Homo sapiens: one gene and its partner. The protein of the gene in region 2 purifies or fractionates together with the protein of the main gene of each other region. This does not show direct contact. Each region holds a gene or a part of one and is shown on either strand. Other genes may lie near its edges. The genes, in order: NTF3 and DOK6.

Evidence for each region.
Region 1: the proteins of DOK6 (region 2) and NTF3 purify together in Homo sapiens (co-immunoprecipitation; one study listed by IntAct). This does not show direct contact.

What each region holds. Positions count from the first base shown.
Region 1 is NC_000012.12:5,438,463-5,442,290, reverse strand, and holds part of NTF3 (neurotrophin-3 isoform 1 preproprotein), read right to left. Parts: intron 1-3,828. UniProt on the Homo sapiens protein: Seems to promote the survival of visceral and proprioceptive sensory neurons.
Region 2 is NC_000018.10:69,697,647-69,701,474, reverse strand, and holds part of DOK6 (docking protein 6), read right to left. Parts: intron 3,072-3,828; coding exon 2,882-3,071; intron 1-2,881. UniProt on the Homo sapiens protein: DOK proteins are enzymatically inert adaptor or scaffolding proteins. They provide a docking platform for the assembly of multimolecular signaling complexes. DOK6 promotes Ret-mediated neurite growth. May have a role in brain development and/or maintenance.

The DNA of each region.
Region 1 (3,828 bases), on a different chromosome or scaffold from region 2:
GAAGCGGAGACCATTCCTGGACCCTCCAGCTTGCTCCTGAACCAAGAGGATTCTCAATCATGGTTTGTACTAAAAAACAACACCTGAAGTGGGAACCCTGTATTCCATCTTCCTTGCTTCCCTTGTTCTCCCTGGAGCACTATGATTGTAACCTGACTGCCTCCTTCACCAGTTTCCAGACCCCAAGGCCAGCAGCACTACATTCATCTCTGCATCTTCCCCAACATTTAGCACGTGACCACCAACAGACTGCTTAATGAATAATCTGTACACGTGTGTTTTGAGTTGCTTTCCGAGTGTCTAACGAGGAGTTATCCTAATGCGTATGCAATGACACCCGATTCCCTGTGACCAAGAGCCCCAATTTGCAGGAGAACTAAGCAGGCTAAGATGTGGGGAAGAAAGGTCTCTAAAAGGGAGTAAGAACAGCCTTTTCTGGCCACCAAGCGCTGAGCATTCATGACCTTAGCCTTGGGACAGGCCAAAAGGGGGATAAAGGTAACACTGTTTTGAAGCCCTGGCAAGGTGCACTGCCTCTCTGAGCCAAGTTCCTGGCACTGTCAAATCGCTGCTGCACATTCTGAGCTCACAATGGCTGGTCACGCATTCATTCACTCAACACATTCCTGTGGCTGTCGCTATTCAAGGTGGGGGACACAAAAATGAAAACAACAGATCCCTTTCTCTGTGAAGTCACATTCTAGGAATGCAAATTAAACACAGGCTGCTAAGTGGCATCAGGAGGCTGGGAAGGGAGCCTTAGGCTCTCTGGGGAAATGCAGGGAGGCTTCCCAGGTTAAGCAAATATCCCAGGTTAAGCAATGATTTTAATATCATTGATGATGATGGAGGGGTAAGCATTTGAAGCACAATATTTGTACAGAATATATCCTCCAATGCTATCTCCGATTCAAGAATAAACGTATCACTTGTACAGAACATTTCCCTCTATATTTAGGCCATTTGAGGTATCCCCTTCTCCATCCACGCATTTGTCCAGATTTTTCTACTAGCTCCCAATTCTCACAATTTAATTAATGATAAGTCAAGAAAGACCTTAGAGATAATCAAAGTCAGTAGCTCTTAATAGATGAGGAAGTGAGACCTAGTGTGGTTCGAGGACTTCCCAAAATTGTAATTAGCCTCTGTTGGAGTTAGAGGCGGGGTCTGATCTCTCTGCAGAGTTTGGGATCTCTCTGATTTAGCTTATTGAATTCAGCTACCCACAGACAACTTTAATCCCACATAAACCTCTCGCATACTCCCAACTTCCAATCCAAGATCCGCCACGAATCTGGCAAGCTTGTTTCTTCAGTGCTTCATAAACATGCACTCATCCGTATGTTCAATGACTTATCTGGCATCACATAACTTAATTTCCTCCTCCACCCCCTCCAAATCACTCTATGTAAGTCCTCTAGGCCAGCAGGGTTACCTGAAAATCCCAGGCATGGGCCACAGTGTGGGGCCGAGGGAGCAGCGGAGTCATGGAAGATGTGATCTGTCACACTGGTAGGGTCCTTGTGACCCTCTAGTGAGTCCAACTCCTCCCTTTTCCAGGAAAAGAGGCCCACGGAGGGAAAGTGATTTGCTTAAAGTCACACAGCTAGTCTGGGCTCTCTGCAGGGAGACTGTGGCAAGCTATTTAAGGTAGCCAGGTGGGTGTTAGGAGGACTGGGCTTCTTCCCCACCATGGGACACACCTGTTGGGAAAGCAGGTGATTTCTAGAGCTGTGTCTTCCTCTTGAACCCAGTGGAAGTACCTTATGAACCATTAGAAGCAGGTCCTCTAGATGTGGGATGAAACTAATCTCAGATTGAGAACTTGAAACAAACTCCCTGAGGGATCACTTAGAGCCAGAGAAGGATATTTTTAAATGCTGGGGTCTTAGATCTAGAAACAGAGGGAAGGGGGAAGTAAATTGCAAGAACCTGGCTATCAGTTTTTAAAAGGCTATATACTCCATATGAAGAAAAAAATTATCACCCTACACATGAAAGGTTATTTTAAGCAAAGTAAATACATAATTTTTGAGTACCTATGGTCTAATAGGCATTAGGTTAGTGTTCAACATTTATTTGTACATGCAAATATGTTTAAGCAACAGAACAAAGTCACCTGTCCTTAACTGTCTTGATGATGTATATGTGGTAGTGATGGTGAGGAAATCAGTGGAGGAAGAAGGAATGAGCCTTTAGTCACAATCTTCAAACAGGGCAACATCCACCCCAAGAACCTGTTTGGCTTCTCTATTTCTGGTACTGCCCAGAGAATGGTGTGCAGTGGCAAATCCTCAGCTGGAGGGCTCTACAGCTGCTCTGCTCTGCATCAAACACAGCCTGGGGACCTCAGTCTTTAGCAGTGACCCCTGCCCCCCAACCTCCCAGCAAGAAACCTACCTTAACTTTGGCCCCAGTCTAAATGGTGTGAGTTCCCTAGCCTATCAAAGAAAGCCATCTTCCAAATTCTAAAGATACCTCATGCTCTCCATTCATATTCTTTTTCACTTTGATTCTGTGCAATTCCAGGACTCAAGAATGCTGGGACCTACCACCTCTCGTGGGCGTGTGGATCAAAACCAGATGTCCAGCTCCAATTTTATAGAGTTTACAAGGAGGCAATTGTGGCTTAAATCAATATCCGTATTCTGTAAGGGCAGGTTCCCTTGTCAACAGAACAAGAAGTAAAGGGAGAGGGCCAATGGAGGCTGAGACAGATCTGACACATGCTTGCCAGCAGGTGGCTAGAAAACCTAAACATTTGTCTTGCACATGACAAGGAGGCTTCCGGGGGCAGGGAGCAGGTTACCCTATGGGGTGACCAACTTTGCAGAAGAAGATGGACCCAGCTCCCATCTGGATGACATCACAGACATAAAAAACAGAATCTGACTAGCAGGTGATGGGCTTGGGATGCCACAGACTTCAGGCTGGAAAGCCAAGAACATCAGCATACCCCTTAACCTCACATAACCTCAGTACCCCCATCTGTAAATGAGATTATTTTGAGTACTGAGATAATGCCATGTAATAGCTGTAAAAATGCCTGGCACCCAGTAAGTACTCTAATATTAACTGTCATCATCATCATCATCCATCATCTTAAAGATGGATGCTTACCTTAGTCAGAGACATTGCCACTGAAAGACATTCACGTGGAAGCTGAATGATTAGCATCAGACCTACCAGAAAGCCAAATCCCACCCCTTTCAGCTCTGCACACCCTGTGTAGGCTAAGCCAATGTTTAGAGCATTCTTGGCCAAAAGGAAACACTCTGGCAAATTTTTTGCACGCTTTTCTGCCTTTGACTCAGCCATTCCCCAAAGATAAAAACAGGAGCTCGTTAAGGGCGTGCCAGGGTGCACTCCAAGTGAGGTAATTAGCACTGATTAGGTAGGAGGATGTGGCTACTGTGGAATCCTACAGTGACAGGGCTGGAATGGGACTGGGAGATCTTCTAATTCAAGCCCTTCATTTACAGATGGCAAAGTCATGTCCTACAGAGAATGTCCAGGGTCACACAGTAGCAGCTAATTAGTGACAGAGCCCAGTCACTGAACCTGGTCCTTCACTTCTAAGTCAGGCAGCTACCTGCTGCCTCAGGCTACTGAAGGTCACCCTGGCCTGGGCTCTTGTTAGCTACTGTTTCCTCCAAAATCTCTGGCCTTGAATGTTGGAGAACCTTAAATCTTCCAACAAATCTCTGACTGAACAAACCCACAAAAAAAAATGGGGCTCAACAAATGTCTTCTCTGGAGATGTTACTAAAAAGTGAGCAATCACAACAGACCACACGAAATTTCACGTCAAAATCTGTTCTGTTTCAA
Region 2 (3,828 bases):
CAGGATAAAATTGTACATAATCATGAATCTTATCACTTCCTCTGAAGGTCTGGTATTTTTTTGTGATTATCTTGAGAAAATATGCTTGCATGGCAAATTGGTTGTTTCTACCTTTAAAATGCAAAGTTATGATCCTTATGGTAAAAGAGCAATTGCTCCGAGCTGATGTGAGACTATGAATACATCTCCTGGGCGCCATGCTGCGCTGAGGATGATTACCATGGAGAGTTTCCTGGTCCTTGTTCTCCTTCTGCCCCACACTAGGTGAGTGCTCCTTGAGACTTATGGCATATAATTATAATTACAAGGGTGACTGAAGGATGCTTCTCCAGAATAAACGATGTATATCCATTCCTACTGTTCATGTCTACATGTCAGTTTTACAGCAGAATTTAACAATGCATTTGAAAAAGTGTGTCAATGAAAAAAGTATTTTGACATATCCAATTGTATTATTTTCATATGTATTATTTGTACTAATACTACTATTAGTGCATATAGTAGTATAAATAAATAGCTAAAATTTATACCAAGTGATATGCCTTGGGCAATGAGCTAATAAAACCTAGAAAGTGTTGGCCTTTGGCTTTGGTTTGCTAGCATGACTGGCCATGCCTTACCTGCCAATCTGCCCTCTAAATTGTCCCCAGTCTCATCACCAGTGACCCCATCAGTCCAGACCCAGGGAACACAATGTCCCACTTTTATTTCTCTAGATCAAGTATGGACAAGACCTTCCCCCACTGGCTCATTTTAACAACAGTGAAGTCATCTGGAATTTACAAAACAGATGCACAAAATTATGGACAATTTCTCAGTCACTAAAGAGCAAATGACACCCAAAATTCAGAGAAGGAGAAACACACAAATGAACTGTGTCCAAAGGACAGATCTCTAATCTCAAAGACAAGGAAATAAACAGAGGGAAAAAAATAGATACCAAATTCCTCTATGAAATAGAAAGATCTTAAAAAACTAATGTGGACAGGTATAAATGGAGTGAAAATTCTGAATAACCATTCTTCATGAAAGAAAATGACTTGTTATTTAAAATTTTGAGTGGAAGTCTATTGAAACGTTGTAACAGACAAAATAGTTAAATTGTTTTCCATAGAAAGAGGAAGATAGGTATATCTAGAAGGATCCAAGGGAAGGGATCCTGGAGGTAGTGCTGGTAAATGATGCAAAAACGAAAACAAAACCCCAACCCCGACAAAACCTTAACAACAACATTCAATTCATATATATATATATATATGTATATATATGTAAAACTAACTGATATGGTTTGACTCTGTCCCCACCCAAATCTCATCTTGAATTGTAGCTCCCAAAATTCCCACGTGTTGTTGGAGTGACCCAGTGGGAGATAACTGAATCATGGGGGCAGTTCCTCCCATGCTGTTCTGATGGTAGTTAATAAGTCTCACGAGATCTGATGTTTTGATAAGGGGAAACCCCTTTCACTTGGCTTCATTCTCTTCTCTCGTCTGCTGCCATGTGAGATGTGTCTTTCTCCTTCTGCCATGACTGTGAGGCCTCCTTAGCCACGTGGGACTGTGAGTCCATTAAACCTCTTCCTTTGGTGAATTGCCCAGTCTTGGGTATGTCTTTATCAGCGTGTGAAAATGGATTAATATACTACCTTTTTAAAGCCAGTAAAAAAATAAGGTGCATCATAGATTTTAGGTCAGTGAATCTCTAAAACATGTCAACTCATTTTCATAGTCATAATTTTTAAAATAGTAAACATATCTTAAAAATATTCATTTTCTTATTAGAATTTGTATTTCCCAATGGCTATCGGAATGTGATTACACTATTGCACTCTCAATATCTAGGTAGACAGAAATAGTTGAACAAGCTCATAACTACTAAGTAAACACAGGATCTAATGCTTTTCAGAGAAATCAGTGTGGTAGAGACTTTAATATTACTGTAGTGCAAAAGGGCCCCAGACTGGTAAAATTACTCCAGCTCAGGTTTTTTGTTTGTTTTTTCCCTCCTTAAAATTTTAAGAGACATGGGACCTACCCTAGCTGGCTAGATAGATATTATTAGAATGTGACATTGAGTAAATATTTAGCAGTTTTTAAGAAGAAAGTTATAAACTTAAAAATATTATATCAAATGCAATAAAACTTCACTATAATTGCCTTATAAGGCCATGAATTCATTTTAAGAATGTGATAAATCATGTACCCTGGGTGAAGATGGAAGCATTAAACATCTCCTCATATAAAATCCCCAAACCTAAGTCTTATCTTGGATGTGTGACAATACTACAATGGGGTCATAGCATAAAGACAATGATTTGGTTGGTTGTAGTTTATGTCTAAATCCGTGTTTATTAATAATGATTGTGAATCAAGGATTCATTTCAGACCCTTATGGATTCCAACCATATGCTGTGATCAAGAAAGCAGTATATTTGCCTAAAAGCAATATTTAAATTTATTTAAAACTTTAAAAAAAGATTGTTTGCTTATTAAAAAACACTCACAAAAACAATGCAAGCAAGGACATGCTGCCTTTAATTTTATGGAGGTCCTTTTGCATACAGGCACACCGAAAATATAGTATTGTAATAATCTTGCAAAACATATTACATTATTAAAATAATTACAAAACCAGTTTGAGTTTGATGGTAGTGTAAGAAACTGAAATTATTTTGAATGGGGTAATTAGCCTGCCAAAAAACTAACAGAATTGTATTCATGTTATTAAGAATCTGAAGAAATTATGTATTTGGTAACTTTTACCCTGAATGAAAACAGTGCTCACTGGGGGCAATGATGGACAGCACTCTCTTTCAGGACTCTGTTATACAGACTCTGTTATACAGACAACTCCTGCACTTGGCTGCTGCACTAGATCTTACCTTCCTGACTCAAACGTGAACCACGTTGAGTCCCGACCGTATCTCCTCAGTGAGCTGAGAGGCCACATCACCAGTTTGACCTTGGCATTGTGGATATCCCAGAGATAGATATTTTCATGAGTGATCTGCATTGTGCATTCACCATAAATATCCAGGTTTGGTGTAGGCATAAGATACACGTTGAATCTCTCTGTGAAGAGACGAAGAATGGAGAAGGTTAAGTGAAAAGAGGTGTGAGTGTCTATGGCCATACGATATTAATTTGTTTATCTACAGACTGCAGGAAACATGACCACATCCTCCCTAGGTGATATGGATAAACATTGTAGAACATGACATATTTCAAAATTTGTATGAGAAAAGGAGTTCATTAAAGTGTTCTGAATCATTAATTCATTCATTCACTCAACGACTTTTCATTGCATGTATTGTCTATGGTGAGGATTAAGTAGTTAAATTGTACAATGGAAAAATAAGGGCAAAAGTTAAGGGAGTCTCTGCCCAAATTGTGCTTATGGTCTGTTCCTTCACACAATCTAAGTGGATATCACAGATACGATTCCAGCGAGGGATGTCTTATTTGCTCTCCTTAGGCAAGATCTTATTTGATTTTTACCTTTGTTGATGTGAAGTATTTAATGCACCCTCAGACTGACTCACTAACTACTTAAGCACTGGAAAAATCATTTAGTTTGTATCTCAAAACAAATTGTAGTCATGGTCAAATTTAGCATATGATAATTGCAGATATTCATTACAGCCTTCCGCAGAACTTAAGACATTGCTTTGGTAAGCAAAATAAAAATACTTAACTTTTTTCATTCCTGGATATCCTATGGCTGAAAATATTATTAGGCAATGATTCCAAACCTTACTTTGTAACTGTCTGTCTGTGTTTCTTAAAGGCTATTGCAAAGTTATGCTGCCTTTGATTCCCATTTAGATGC